2 separate regions of the Homo sapiens genome follow, and region 1 is linked to region 2. Evidence: fine-mapped expression QTL. A gene starts in region 2. The other region holds a variant in brackets. All regions are shown on one strand. Distances are between the middles of the regions.

Region 1 (8,346 bases), 29 kb before region 2:
TTCACTCATGAACCATTCCAGCTGAGAGGTTCTTCTCACAGCCACCAGCAGACCCTGAGTGAACCCTGGTGCAAAATCTAACGTAGAACACTGCTGTGTTGTGCATGCCTGCATAGGCCCTCAGGAAGGGGAAATAGGTTTGGCTAGGTAAGGATATATTTCTTAGGGAATAGGAAAGACAAGCTTGCCCCTCTCAAAGGCACACAATCCAGGTCTGCCATACAGAAGAGGGAGCTTTGAGCATCTTTATTTTAGCTGCATTGTGAATTCCTGCTCCCATCCACCAATATCAAGTTTAAGGTGGGGAAGGGTGTCAGGTGGGAATGACAGAAGGGCAAGACCCACAGGTAGAAAAAGAAGCTGCCAAGTCACTCCATTCTCACCCCTTGTCACCTGGGGTGGACATCAATGGCAGCTTTGTCTTAAACAAGAGCTTTGGTCAAGCAAAGGCCTTTTGCAATACGCCGACAGCTTTGGTTTAGTTTTACCACTAATCAGTGCTGAATGGAACGTGGATTCAATACACTCTCAAAAGGAAAGCGCTTGGTAAGCTGAGGCTTTCTGGGTTTTCTCTGGAACTTTTTTATTAAAATTCTGATTATTGCTGGGTCTACAAATCAGATAGTAAAAGAATCCAGAATATATGGCCATGCTTCATAATGCATAGCATATGAACTAACTTGCAAACCATGCTCTTTTAAATAATGAGTAGAGGAAAACTGGCTTTTAATTATTTTACTGCTAAGCTCTAAAGTTTATTTTACTAAATATAACTTTTAATGTTATTAATTAACATAACTTTTGAACAAAGGAAATATCCTATGTTGATGACTGTAAAGAATCACACGCATATCCATTCTCATAGTCTTCCAAAGTTAAAGGTACAGTATGAGATACATCATTCAAATACATAATGGAATCCTTGAGTGGTTCAATGGATGGCTTGAATTAATAAAAACATAGGGAAATTATTCTTTAAAACCATGAATTCACAACTACAAAGCCTATTTTTGCTTTGCTATTATTAATACAATAAGAGGTTTGACTTTGACCCTGAAATCACAAACGTGGAAAACATTAACAGTATTATATTGACATGTCTGAGCCTCTCTTTTTCTGTATTAAACTGAGGCTTCTGATAAGTTTGAAGGAGTCCCTATGGCACCAAATAAAACTAAACAATTTATACAGCCTAAGATCAAGGAGGTCTAGTGAACCAAAAGATCCCAGCTCCCTGATAAAAGGAAGTCTATTTGAAACCACTGGCAATTATTAACGTTTTAAAACTATAATTTAAGAAATCATTCTTGTTAAAAATAAATATTAACCTTTTGGAAAATCTAACCTTTCTAATAATCTATATAACAGGCTTTTCAAAAACATTTCAGATTCATGTTGATAAAAATGTGTTCATATTATTAACCTAGCCTTTTTCCCTCAACCATGATACATTTAAACTAAGAATGAATTAGAAGGCTGCAATTGTCTTTAATGTAATAGCATATCTATTATAATAAATTGTCTTTTGGAATGTTATGGCTTTTCCCCAGAAGTATTTAATTTTTTTTTTTTTTTTTTTTTTTTTTTTTTTTTTTTGAGACGGAGTCTCGCTCTGTAGCCCAGGCTGGCTCTGTAGCCCAGGCTGGAGTGCAACGGCGCGATCTCGGCTCACTGCAAGCTCCGCCTCCCGGGTTCCCGCCATTCTCCTGCCTCAGCCTCCGGAGTAGCTGGGACTACAGGCGCCCGCCACCACACCTGGCTAATTTTTTGTATTTTTAGTAGAGACGGGGTTTCACCGTGTTAGCCAAGATGGTCTTGATCTCCTGACCTCGTGATCCGCCCGCCTCGGCCTCCCGAAGTGCTGGGATTACAGGCGTGAGCCACCGCGCCCGACCTCATAAGTATTTAATTCTTAAGATTGGGTTTTGGTAACAAAATAAGATGGGATTTTTGTCTTCCAGATCATCACTTAATCTCCTCTGGGGTAACAGAGCAGCAGTTTGTTATAACCTGTGAGTTCTGCAGGGTTACTCTGTACATCCCTACCAGGGAAACTGCTGTGGTGTCACAGATTACAGTGGAAGACACATGCTGCCTTTCTCTTGTTTTCAATCTAAATAGGCCAGTAGCCATGAGCCATGCTTGAGATGGAACATACTCCAGAGATAAGCATATAACAAAGTGGAGTAGCTAGGAAGCAATTGTCACTCGTTGTGATACTTCAAATCAGTATTCAAGACTAGCTTACCCCAAGTGGGATAACAGGCCTTTTGTAGCCTGAAAAGAATGTGCATGAATCTGAGTGCCTATAAATATTGTTGCCTACAGCTTGGTGGTTCTTTGGACGTCATGTTTTCTTTGACTTTCTATTGAAATTACCACTTTGGTAAAGCTTGCAGGATAAACCTTATTTCCAAAAATAGTTTTTGTCAGAGAAATAAAGCAAAAAAAAAAAAATTGTGAATCTTAAGAGGTCATTCCTTTTAATCCTGGTTAAGTATAAGCAATTTAGAATATTTAAATGTAGTGATATTTACAAATTGTTAGAATGGGCATTAATCCTCTTTAATCTTTAGCGACATTACGGAGGCAGTGCTCTATTAAGAGAAGGAAAGTACTGAGACCATTTTTTAGCTGAAAATGTCAGTCAGTGAAATTGAGCTGTGTCCTCAAAACAACAAAATGCAGTTTAAATTGATCTTCAGACTCTCAAAAATGATGTCTTCATTTCAAATATATATATGGTTACAATAATTAATGTGTTCTATTGATTTGCTTGACAACTATTAATATACCCCATGTTACCAGGATAATCTGAGTCCTTTTGAAACTCCTTAAATGGAAGTATTTTTGAATATCATGAGCTGTAGTTGATGCCAATTTTTGGTCCTATAGAGTAGCTTAGTATTCCCAAAAGACTGTTTCTCAATTTGTTTTTGGTTTAAACAATTGGTGTTTAATTTAACTAAGGAAAACCTTAAACTTAAGATTCAGTTGTGGCAACACAGAATGAAATGGGATTTTTGTCTTCCAGATAAATAGTCATTAAGTTCAGCTCACAAATCTCTTTAGTCTGTATATAAGTATAGCAAATGTTAATAATTATTTTTAAGTGCGCTTTGAATAATGTTTGGTCTCATTAATTAAACACTTTCAAATATTTAAACTTTGTTTCTAAATTTAATATATTCTATATTTTAAGTACTTCAATTATCTAAATTATAGAAATTACAGCAGATATTTAAGAAGCTGTTTTATATCTTGTACATTAAACCTGATGACACTGAAGTTCTTTTAAATGGTCCAATATTGTATATGAGCTTAGTAACATTTCAGTTTAAAATCTCAAGTCTAAATAAAGTGATAAACCATCCCTAACTGAGGGAGATGTCTGGTATACAGAGCTTTCTATTTTAAAATGAAGACAATTCTGAGCAAATCAGGAGAAATTGGTCGCCCTAAGTCAAAATCACACAATTACAAATTTTCAACTGAAGTCATAAGACTGTCATTCCAAGAAGACAAATTTGTAAAATAAGAAATATGAACAGCTTTCTTCTTAACCACCAAATATTATTACTTTCATTTTAATTATTGCAATCCTTCCTACACTTAATTTTAAATCTCCCCAGAGCTAAAAGATTCTTTCCCACTAAAGGAAACCTGTTACCATGCCATGTAATTTAGGTCACATGTGCATAGAGATTTTGGCCCACATAGGCACTAGACTTGTTAAAGACCCTGATGAGTTTCACTGAACTTTGTTTCATGGTTGAAATGTCATGGACTTCAAAATATGAAGGTGAGCTCAACATCACTAATCATTAGGGAAACGCGAGTCAAAACCACAGTGATATATCACTTCATACCGATTAAAAGGGCTACTATTAAAAAAAACAGAAAATGTTGGCAAGAATGTAGAGAAATTGGAACCCTATGCACTGTTGGTGGGAATGCAAAATAGTGCAGCTGCTATGGAAAATAGTATAGCAGTCCCTCAGAAAATATAATTACCATATGATCCAACAATTCCACTTCTGGGAATATACCCAAAAGAATGGAATTAGCTGGGTGTGGTGTCACATGCCTGAAGTCCTAGCTACTCAGGAGGCTGAGGGAGGAGGATCACTTGAGCCCAAGAGTTTCAGGCTGTGAAGTGCTAGGATTGCACCCCTGCACTCCAGGCTGGGAAACAGAGAGAGACCCTGTCTCTGAAAAAAAAAGAAAAAGAAGAGGAAAGCCGAATCTCCAAGAGACATTTGTACAGCCATGTTCATAGCAATATTGTTCACAATAGCCAAAAGGTAGAAGCAATTTATGTGTCCACTGATGGATGAATGGATAAGCAAAATGTAGGATATACATTCAATGGCCTTAAAAAGGAAGGAAATTCTGATACATACTACAACATAAGTGAACTTTGAGACGTTATGGTAAGTGAAACATCATTCACAAAAAGACAAATACTGCATGATTCCACTAATGTGAAGTACCTAGAGGAGTCAAATTCATAGAGACAGAAAGCAAAATGGTGGTTGCCAGGGGCTGGGGATGCAGGGGAATGTGGAGTTTTTTTTTAATGGGTACCGAGTTTTAGAGTTTTAAGATGAAGAGTTCTGGAGAATGGTTGTACAACAGTGTGAGTGTACTTAACACTACTCAACACTACACTTAAAAATGGTTAATATGGGCTGGGTGCAATGGCTCATGCCTGTAATTCCAGCACTTTGGGAGGCCGAGGCAGGGAGATCACCTGAGGTCAGGAGTTCAAGACCAGCCTGGTCAACATGGTGAAACACGTCTCTACTAAAAATACAAAAATTAGCCAGGTGTGGTGGCGTGCACCTGTAGTCCCAGGTACTTGGGCAGGTGAAGCAGGAGAAGTGCTTGAGCCCAGGAGGTGGAGGTTGTGGAGAACCAAGATGGTGCCAATGCACTCCAGTCTGGGTGATAAAGCCAGACTCCATCTCCAAAAAAAAAAAAAA[T/AT]GCTTAATATGGCAAAACTTATGTGGCATGTAGTTTATCACAATTACAATAATTTAAAAAATCAAAAAGTTTGGTAACAACAAGTATTGATGAGGATATGTAGAAATTAGAACTGTCTCATACATTGCTGGTGGGAAGGTAAAATGGTGCAGCCACTTTGAAAAATAGTTCAGTCATTCCTTAAATGATTAGATGTAGAGTCATCATATGACCTAGCAATTCCACTACTAGGTATATACCCAAGAGAAATGAACACATATGTTCACGTAGAAACTTACACATGAATGTTTATAACAGTATTATTCAGAATATTCAAAAGGTGGAAACAACCCAAATGCTTGTCAATACGCAAATGGATAAACAAAATGTGGCATACAATGGAATATTATTTGACTCTAAAAACTCATGAACAAACTTCTGGTTTCTGGTTCTAACCTGAACCTGATTCCCAGGTTCTAACCAGAAACTGGTTTCCAGGTTCTAACAGTGGAGATAGAGAAAAAACCCCTCATGCTTCTGGCAGGGGGAGGAGAAAAGGAACTGTTTTGGAGTATGCAGAGCACTCTGTTCTTCTTAATAAGACCTGCCCTGAAAAGAAACTATTTTACCAGAGCCTAACCAACCTAGGTGTAGAGAAATGCCCAACTCCAGCCCCCTCTATGGCACTATGGCGGGGGAAGTTTGGCAGGGTTACTGGGAAGCATTTGTGAAGTTCACAGCCCAGGGACCCAGGCTCACTAAAAGACCAATGCTGAATCATACATGGTACTATAGAATGCTTTCTCTCCCCTCCACACCATACTATCACATTACTAAAGGCCTATTTACTGCAGTTCCTTGTACCCAGTACATTATCTCTAGCTTTCAAAAATTGCAAGGCATACTAAAAGACAAAAAACAAAACAAAACAAAACAAAAACATAGTTTGAAGGGAAAGAGCAAACATCAAAACCAGACTCAAATATGGCAAGAATGTCAGAATTATCAGCCTGGAAATTTAAGACAATTATGATTAATATACTAAGGGCTCTAATGGAAAAAGTAGACAACACACAAGAATATGTGGATAACGTAATCAGAGAGACGGAAGTTCTAGGAAAGAATAAAAAAGAAATGATACAGAGCAAAATACTGTGACAGAAGTGAAGAATGCTTTTGATGGGCTCATTAGTAGACCGGACATGGCTAAGCAGAGTCTCTGAGCTTGAGGATGTGTCAATAGAAACTTTCAAAATTGAAGAGCAAAGGCAAAGAAGACTGAAAAAAATGGAATAGAATATCAAAGGATGGTAGGACAACTATCAATGTAACATGTGCATGATGTGCATGACGGGAATAGCAGAAGGAGAAGAAAGGAAGGAACGGAAGAAATATTTGAGGCAATAATGACTGTGAATTTCCTTAAATTAATGTCGGACACCAAACTACAGATCCAGGGAGTTCCAAGTACACCAGGCAGAATACATGCCAAAAAGAATACACCTAGGCATATCATATTGAAACTGCAGAAAGCCAAAGATAAATAAATCTTAAAAGAAGCCAGAAGAAAAATGAAGTATTGATATGTGCTACAACATAGATGAACCTTGAAAACGCACTTAGTGAAATAAGTTAGTTACACAAGACCACATATTATATGACTTCATTCATTTGAAGGTCCGGAGCAGGAAAGTTTATAGAGACAGAAAGTAGATTAGTGGTGACTTACGGCTGGGGGGAGAAAGATGCAGTGATAGGGGACTGGTAGCTATAGGGTATAGGATTTCTTTTTGAGGTGAAAATGTTCTAAAACTGACTGTAGTGATGATAGCATATATCTGTGAATATACTAACAACCACTAAATTGTATATTTCAAATGGATGAATTATATGGTAAGAGAACTATATATCAAAAAGGCTATTAAGTTTTTTAATGTGAAAGTAGTTGGTCTCAGAGTTCACATTGCCTAGTTCTTTGTCTACCCACAGAGGCCTGTAACTCTTACCCAGTTTGAACCCTTGCTTGAATTTTGCGTTTCTTTGACTTTTAGGATGTGTCGAATTCTAAAGACCTTTGGCTCTGATGAAGGCCTTAGATTTGCAAATGTATTTTCTATCTGACCTGATGAAATCTTGCATTCTTTTATAGTCTTAGGACCACCCAGCCCTTAGGGATATTTAAAATGATATCCAAAGAATTCTGGAGACCTCTTCTAGCTTGTCATCACCACATGCAAGACCTTTCTACTGCCAATTGTGATACTGGTGAGGGTATGACTATTCCTAGCATGTTTTTCTATGGCTGAATAATTTATAAATAATAAAAAGTCTCTGAATCACCAATTTGCCAAATTTATAAAATTTACTAAAATTACTTGAAATTTGATGATTTTGCCTAGCATAAAGTTTATGTAAATTAATCACGGGGATGATGATTTATCAGAGATGTTTTTTATAGCTTAACAGGAGAGTTAAATTTGTCAAAAGCTAGAGATCATAAAACTATTCAGTCTTACGAATAATATTTAATATTCAGAAAAGGAACCAAAATTTTCAGCAATTCATAATAAATCAGTACATAGATACAGGTAACTGCAGGATTTATGACTTTTAATTTACACAGGAAATTTGTAGTTCATACTGTTATGAACTGAACTGTGTCTCCACCAAATCTGTATGTTGACGCTCCAATCCCCAAGGTGACTGTATTTGAAGACAGGGCCTTTAAGAAGGTAATTAAGGTTAGATGAGCTCAAAAGGATGGGGGGCTCTAATTTACTAGAACTGGAATCCTTACAAGATGTTGAAGACACATCAGAAATGCTCACACAGAGAGGAAAGACCACGTAAGGAGACAGAGAAAGCAGACCATTCACAAGGCTGCATGGGAGGTGTCACCAGGAACCAACCCTGCTGGCACCTTGAACTTGGACTTCCAGCCTCCAGGAACTACAAGAAAATAAATTGTTGTTTGAGCCACCCAGTCTGTAGTATTCTCTTATGGCATCCTAAGCAGACTAATACACTACCAATTTTTCAAAATGATTTTTATGCCATTTTCTGTTTCAACAGACAAAGAGTCTGTTGAAAATGCTAAAGAAGCATTTTTTAAGATTATTTCACCAATTTCCCAAGTGGTATAGCAACTTCAACTTATTGTTTTTAATAAGTTAGAGGCCAGAATTTAATTTGCAATATGGTAGCTCCTGTATCTTTCTAGTTATTTTACATTTGTGTCTTTATTCATCTTATTGCATTCCTCAGGGATTTGCAACAATTTTACTCTTTCTTGCATAATTCTTTATGGCTAATGTATTTCAAATTTGAAGTTCTATTTACAGTAGGTATGGTAATCCCTTCTCAGAATCTTCATTTCACTGCT
Region 2 (8,346 bases):
CAACCTATAGGTGCACTGAAGGTGACCTAACCCAGAATGTGTAAAAGATAAGCATACAGTTCTAAGCCCAAAGTGCTTTTATGATCAGATATCCAGATGGACTAAAACATTGTTCAGGTCAGTTGAAAGTTGCTTTAGGAGAAATGTTTAAAATCTGGCCCTGGAACAAGAAGAGTTGGATCTATCCTTCAAAATGTCATTTTCCCCCAGGCTTTATATCAAACACACAAAATATAACAAATAAAACAAAACACAACAAAAGCCCTTTACTTTTTTTAACATAGATCAAATAAGTAGAAAGGCAGAGAACAGTCGATCTCACATGGGGGAAAAAACCACCACCACAAAATGTTTTTGCCATCCGCCCACCGGTTTAATGCTCTCTAAATGAATGTATTTCCAGAAATATTATCCCAGAAATTTTATGGATTCCAGGCCGTCCTAGAAATATTATAATTTGAATACCCCGTTCTTTGTTTAAAAAATATCCCTGTCTTGGATTTTAATTGAACATAAAAAATTTAGCAGATGTTTACAAAGTACAAATATGATAAGTTTATATAACTCTGCTAATCATTGCCTTCAGGAATAATCAAAACTCTCCAGCCCTTATTAACCCGCACCTAAATCTGTAGAAGCAGCAATGTTCTGGAAGATTTCAGAAAGACTCATGATGATGAGACAATTGAAATTTGAAGACAAATACCAAAGTAGTCACAAAATCTTCTTCCAATAGCAATAATCTCTGCTTCTCAGTAAATATAACAAAAGGAGTTTGAGAATTCTGGATTTGGAAGGAGTCCCTGAGGCACAGACAGAATATGGCTTGCCAGGTCTATAACTCCTTAGTTTGTAGAACCAGGATTAGAATTCAAGTCTAATACTCAGGCCCATGGGTGTTCCATACTCTCATTCACAAACTCCCAATAATTTCATCATCAATTACCAAAACAAATCCCTGCATATGTGCATAGGAGATATATAGATGTTTATGCAGCATTGTTTATGATAATTGAAAAAGTGGAAATAACTTAAATGTCCTTTGGAAGGAGAAAAGATCAAATGGGGCTTATTCATCTCACCCAATGCCATATACCAGTTAAAGTTAATCAATTCGTGTTCTATGCATTAATATGCATTTTGTTGTAGGAATAAAAATTATACAATGGAATACTATGATACTATGAAAAGGAAATTGAAAGATGTTCCCATACAAAACCTTCTTATATGCAAATGTGTATTTTGCTCCGTAAATTCTTACCAATCTCAGCATATTTTCACAGTTCAAAAAAGCTACAAATAATACAGATAGAAGTTATAAACTTATTACTACAATTAAAAAGTTCAAGGCTGCTCAAAACCACTTGCACATACATGCAATTTCTTCCAAATCTTGAGCTGTTGGTGTCAATTGCCTCATGCAGAGCCTATTAATAAAACTTATATTCACTTGCTTTCTGTGATCATTAATTACCTTCATTTGGGAGACAGAGCTGTCAGGAAATCTTAAAAAATAATTTTTTTCTCCTGAATTAGAGAATTCTTTATTAATATGTTACATAAAAAGGAAATCTGCTTTAGTATATTGACCAAATTCAGTTAGATAATTATAATGCAATTTGCTTCTTTGCGTTGTGGATATACTATGTAGAATCTTTAAATGTTAGAGGATCCTTTGGTGGCTGCTATAAAAGTCTCATTTTACAAGACAGCCCAAAGAAGAAAAATGACTTCCCTAAAGAGATGTAGCTAGTAATAGGCAGCCCTGGGATTAAGACCCAGGCTGCTGACTAGAGCTCTTTACACTACATACCATGTTACTTCTTGGGCATCACAAAATGTATCCACACACTGCCCAATCCCAGAAGAGAAATTGATCAGTCCAGCGATGAAAACAAAACAAAACAATCCCCAAAAATCCCCAAATGCCAGTTCATTGCCATAATAATTTCAAGTCAATTTGCCAAATACTCTTTCACTTTTCAACCGATTACAAGGAGATTGATCTATCTATCTATCTATCTATCTATCTATCTATCTATCTATCTATCATCTATCTATGTATCTCCAATATAACTCTGGGGCTTTGTCATATGTACATATATATGAATTTTACATACCTTTCAGTTGTGTATATATTTGAGGTGTGGTGTGTGTCTGAAGTCTAAAGACTATAATGATACCTTGGGGAAGTTTCTTGTTGTCCTTATGTTTCTGAATCTCCATCTGGAAAATAATTAATATCCATTACATAATGTACATGGGAGCATTAACACGCTTGACCCAGTGGGCTATTTAAACATGAGAGCATTATAATTGTTCTGCAACAGATTTGCAAGATGTGATTTTAGAGATGCCTTTGTCCAAAGGGAAAATCTCCCCCAATGTCTGGAATAGGTCTCCTTATGGGACTTATTCTTTATGGGACTGAAAGGGGCAACATGTAGTAAATATTTTCATCTGTGAAATCCTCTACTCATGGGGAATAAATATTGACTATTTTAACTTTCTGGTCAAAGCATTCTTATTCATTGCTGTAGGCATTGTTAACAGTTTAAAATTAGAATGTTCAGCATTTTCCTTCTAAAATATATTATTTTCCCAAGACTTTGATTTTGGAATTGTACCATACATTTCCGGATGTATCATTAGTCATAGGATAATTTTTTAAAAAGTGACTCTCTTCAATTCTGGTATGTTGTCCTTACACACGCAATCCTTTCCTTTTTAAATTGTTGTCCATGTATATCTTAGAATTAGTCAAAAGAATTTTTAAAACTGTAAAACAATAAACATTTTGGGAGAAGCACTTTGATCCCAGATCTTATGTAATTGTCATTATTTTTCACTATAAGCCAACCATATCTTTGACTCCACTGTCATATTTTTATTCTCTTAATATAATCAAAAAAGGAAAACATTCTATAGGAAGTCATTTCCTTATTATAATGCAATCCCAGATTCTATTTAGCTCATTTGGTTTGTTTGTTTATTTGCTTTCCCCGGGGGCAAAAATATGTTATTTTCTTATTCTGGCTTAAAAAATTTTAAGTCATAATTTCTGATTTCACCAGTAAAACTAAACAATTTTGGCTCTAGCCAGCTGTTGGGAAAACTCAAAAGAAATTTAGGTGCTACAGAAAGAGAGGTTAGTAATTCCAATTGTTCAGCTCTTGCCTTTAGAGTATTCTCTGAGTTGTGTTGGAGTATGTTATTGAGTTGCTGTGAACTACTGCTGCCAACTTCTACCCTAGAGATGGCTATATTTCAGAGATGAGTGAAATTATATTTGTAAACAAGTTTATAATCATTAATAAAGCTTACCAATTTAAGCTCTTCAGAAATACACATCCACTATTATAATTTTCTATTGTTTAATTACAACCTTTAATAGAGACATGAAGACTTTTAAAATGTATAAGAACTCTAAACTTAATTAAATTTGATTTCATGATGTTTATTTGGTTTTTGTAAGTTTCAGGTGTCAAATTATTTCTCCTTAGAGATCCTGGTGAAATTCCACCATTGACTGTTCCAACGTACTGTTTAAAAATCCCTAAGAATATTTTTCTTTAAAGTTGACAACTGTGCACTCTGGGATCCAGATGCTATATTCGCAGTACGATGATTTTGTTCTGTTTTCCACACATGGCCTTTTCATACACTGTCTCCCAGGGATGAAAAATTCTGCCTTGAATGAGAAGTTTTAAACCTTGCTTGAAAATAATAAACACGATACTTTACATGTTTATGGCCATTTAAGTTAAAAAAACGTGCATTTACATGTATCATATTGTTTTACTCTCAAAATTAGTCTTGTAAAGGGAAAAAAGGCATTAAGTAATTCAGTAAATTGTCTGCTGCATGCTAGCCACTATGAAGGGACTGCATGATAGACAAGGCAGTCCCAAAACTTAGAATTTCCTTGGGAAGGTAAGACACGAACAGAATTAACAGCAATGGGGTGGTACATAAGCGTCTCTTCCAATTGAGAAATAGAGGGGCAAAAGGAGATTTATGTGCCGCATTGTGCTAGGAAAGGCACATGTATTATCCCCTGAAACTCGAAACCCGTGTTTGGGGCATGGTCTCCACATGATTTGCACAGTCCACCACAGTGTGAGTCCCCACGGGGGTCCTTTTGACGTCGAGCCCATAGAGTCGTGATGGAGTCTTAGACATGAGGTAGAACTGGCTTTTTTACTCGTGAAAACACTGAGGCTCATGGAGGTGAAATGACTCGGCCAAGGTCACACACACTGATAGCGGCAGAGGCGCGGCCGGAACCAGGTCTTCTGATGCCAGCCCAGTGCCTCCCTACATCTCTACTCCCTGTGGAAACTATTTGCTTCCCTATCGCCCTTCGTCTGGGTGGGGGATGTCATTTTCAGTCAATTTACGGACTTTTCAAAAAGAGAAGGGTGGATAGGAGATTGGAGAAAAGTTTCCTTTCGGTCAGTGAAGAGGCCTGATTCGTTCCAACACCATTTATGGACCTGCTCCTGCCAGGCACTGGGCATCCAGGACACAGCGAACACAGATCCCCTGCCCTCAAAGACGCCCTAGTTAGGGGCGTCTCCGGGTCTTTGATGACCTCCTCTCACGAGCGGTCCCCAGCCCTCCCCAGGGCTCACCTGCCGGCCTCTGCAGGTACCCACGTCCCTAGGACCCGCCACTGGGCCAGGCCCAAGCAGCATCAAGCCCCGGGTCCCCGCCATTGCGCCCGCGTCGCGCGCCTCCAGTCGCCACGGCAACCAGGGAGGTGCTGACCCCTGACCTCGAGGCCCCGCCCCTTCACGTTCCCGAGACCAACATGGAGAAGGCCAACCCGGAAGTGCCGCCGCAGCCGCCCGCCCGGTGTTAGGAGCCGCCGGCCGGGCCAGGCCGAACCAAGCGCCCGCAGCCCTGCAGCCCGCTGCCCGCCCCACGTCCCGCCGGCGCCGGGGCGGCCGCGTTCCCCGCCCTCCCCCACTCCACCCCTGGCTACCCGCTCCCGCCCGAGAGGAGGAGCTGAGGCGAGGGGGAGGAGGAGGAGGGAGAGGTTTGCGAGAGGGAGCGAGGCCGCGTTAGCCGCCGGCGGTTCGTATTACCGGGGTCGGGAGGAGGAGCCGGGCCGAGCCTGCGGACGAACGCCGGGCGGGCGGGAGGCGCGGAGGCAGCGGAGGCTGCTCGGCCGCAAGGAGGCAGGCGGGAGGCCAGGGGTGCAGAATTGGGGCGGGGGCTCCCTTCACCCCCGCAGCCCTCCGCCCGGGTCCGTGTGGCCAGGCCTCACGTGCCCCGCAGGCCTGGGGAAGGTGGAGACAGGGGCGGGGGTCCGCGCAGAGGCCTGCACGGCGCGGCCAGGTGATGGTGGGCCTCTGTGTTTCTCCAGACGAAAGGGGACCCCCGGAGCGGCCGTGCCCCTGGGCTGCCCCCGCGAGGCGTTTTGACATCAGCCATAGGGAAGTCGGGGAGCCCTGAGCCTGCCTGTTTCCGTTAAGTGTCCTTAGGATGCAGTGATTAAGGAATTAGGCTCTCCCTCCGGGAGGGGCACTGCCTGTGCTAGGGAACTCGGGGGCAGAGAAACAGGACAGGATGATGCTGTCCGAGCAAGCCCAAAAGTGGTTTCCAACCCACGTGCAGGTCACAGTGCTCCAAGCCAAAGATCTGAAGCCAAAAGGCAAAAGTGGTACCAATGACACATACACTATAATTCAGCTGGGCAAGGAAAAGTACTCCACCTCTGTAGCTGAGAAAACCCTTGAGCCAGTTTGGAAGGAGGAGGCCTCTTTCGAGCTACCTGGATTGCTAATTCAGGGAAGTCCAGAGAAATACATTCTTTTCCTTATAGTTATGCACAGGTCCCTGGTGGGTCTGGATAAATTTTTAGGGCAGGTGGCAATCAATCTCAATGACATCTTTGAGGACAAACAAAGAAGGAAAACAGAGTAAGTTATGTAATTTATTTTGAATTTGGGGGAGTTTATATCTTATTTATGGTTTTTCTGTTCTTGGAAATTATCCGTATACTTCGGGCGTTGGTTTTTGGATTGAAATATGATCCAGTTTTAAGCACCATATTTGCATGAATCTGAAGTAAAAGTAGCACTCGTGATGAAATATTTTTTAAATGGAATCATTAATGATCCCTTATTCTTTCTGTTAAACATCTGTCAAATAATTGAATATTTTGTGGTGGATTTTAAGTAAGTTAACATTGTTTCAGTATGAGGACTGGATCACAGTATTGACCAACTAGAACTTCATATAAATTGTTATGGATTTTAAACCTTACAATTATCAATGAAATGGAAGATGAGAAATTAAATCTGGCAATGTAATGTTGATGTGTCGCACTTTGTAGCTGTCAAAAGATAAATCACCAGATTTAGAACTCAGTATTTCGTTTCAGCGTTATAAACACAGCTTTTATTTTAGCTCAGCCATTTTTCAGGGTCAGTGTGCCTTGATGGGAGTCTATACCTGTTAGAAAAAAAAAAAGTTTTAAAAGTATGTACAGACATCCTCAACTTCGAATGCACTTACATTTTCCTTTGAATTTGCAATTACATCAGAGTTATTGTATTCAGAATTGATTTTCCAAAGCTATTGTGTTTAGACCATATTAAATGCTGTAGGATGGAGAGAATGATAAATTTTTGTGATGAAATGATTTGATAACATCTTCAGTGGTCTTTTCAGTATGACTTTTGAGCTTGAGTTAGATACATTTTAATTTAAAAAATCATAATATAAATTAACACTAGGATATTGTGTCTTAAATTGAAAAAAAATATGTTTTTAGAGTTAAGTATACTCACCCCTTCCATAAACTTAAAAGGACATTATATTAATGAAATTAGTGAGAGAAAAATACTGGTTGAACTTCTAAGAGGACTTTCCATTTCCAAAATAGTGTTGGTGTTTTGTTCAGTTATAATTGAATTTATTTACTCTTTAAAAAACTTTCTTACAATGATATTTTTCTTGAAGTTTATGTTAATTCTTTACATTTTAAAACGACTCTCTCTTGTTCTTTTCTGTACATTTCTACTCTCAGGCTTCTCTTGATTGGAGTTTTTTTGTTTCATTTTAAATCAGGTCTTAACCTAAGATTTAATATATGTGGAGTAAAAGTGTAGAGAGATCAGAAATACTAGGAATGCAGGAGGAAAAATGGTACCATTTAATTGAGATGAAAATATTTTAGAAGGAGAGAAAAAGTTAAATGTAAAGTTTAATATATATCAGTGATTTGAATAATAAAATTATTTGATACCTAAAGAGTGGCATTCAGTTTCCTCCGAGGGATTCTTTATCAAATTGAAAGTGAAAAATGGATAATTACCAAATAATCTGTTTCAAATTGCCAATTTTGGGTGACACTTAGTAAATATTTAACGTGTTTTGAATGTAAACTATTAAGTATATTGCACCTTCAAATTCCTCACTTCATTTATAGTACTTTAATATTCATGGATCATGTATTTCAGGCCTTCTCTGAAACATAAATTTTCCTAGTGAAAGTAGGACCAAATGTGAACCCAAGGAGTCTGAGGATGAAATAACCTTTTACAATTTCTTCTTGTTTTACTCCTAGTCCTGGGCAACATCACAGTTACAATACATTTGGTGTGAGCAATACTCTAATATTATGGTCTCTCCTTATAGAAATTCTCTACTGGCTATTATATAAAATTGATTAGAACTTTAGGGGTAAAATGCTTTTAAATGTTATCAACAGGGTTTGTGATGTTATTGCATTCAAAGTGATTTTCATATATTGCTAAACCCTTAACATTTTATTTGTGGATAAATGGGGACCATGTATTTGATGAGATATCTTTATTGGTAATATTTCTAGTTTTTTAATATATTTAATAGCTTCCTTTTCTAGCACAGCTGTACCTGTGGCCCAGTAAGAGACAGACTTGAGCCGCCGGTATATTTCAAGGAAGATATTTAATATTCTGCACATTGCTAAACTTTTTCAGCATATTCCCAAGTGCTTTTTAGAAAACTGTTTCGAGTGATGAGGACTACCAGCTAACTTAGATGTCCTATGAAACTGCTGGGTGTGACACTTTTTACATTTTGACACTGAAGACATATATTTACAGCTTGTCTTCCAGTTGTGTCATGATAGATAAAGAAGTATGACAACTAAAATTATTACTTTACTTATTTTCTTACCTTGAAAATATATGTCTTTTTTCTCTCTTAAGGAATGGGGAAAAAGGGTCTGAGCCAGAACCCTTTGAGTGGGCCTGGGAAGAGAACTTCTGTATCTCCTCCTTTAGAGGATGTCTGGGTTGGTTCTGGCATGAGATTTAAAGAAATAATACAATGTTTAGTAATAGAATGTTA

What was found. PIP is the estimated chance that this variant, and not a neighbour inherited with it, causes the effect.
Region 1: its variant is fine-mapped to the expression of RAB11FIP2 in whole blood (INTERVAL, PIP above 0.99).

What each region holds. Positions count from the first base shown.
Region 1 is chr10:118,072,573-118,080,918 of GRCh38, reverse strand. The region is part of intron 3 of CASC2 (cancer susceptibility 2); the gene reads right to left. Among named protein-coding and RNA genes, the nearest start is that of RAB11FIP2, 30 kb to the right of the region's middle. The variant T/AT (reference allele first, on the strand shown) is at 4,986.
Region 2 is chr10:118,043,392-118,051,737 of GRCh38, reverse strand. It overlaps RAB11FIP2 (RAB11 family interacting protein 2), which reads left to right and starts at 4,797. Exons shown (of 5, transcript NM_014904.3): 1 at 4,797-5,927. The coding sequence starts at 5,575. It overlaps CASC2 (cancer susceptibility 2), which reads right to left and starts at 4,917. Exons shown (of 4, transcript NR_026940.1): 1 at 4,635-4,917; 2 at 2,121-2,226. RefSeq lists a silencer at 4,870-5,359.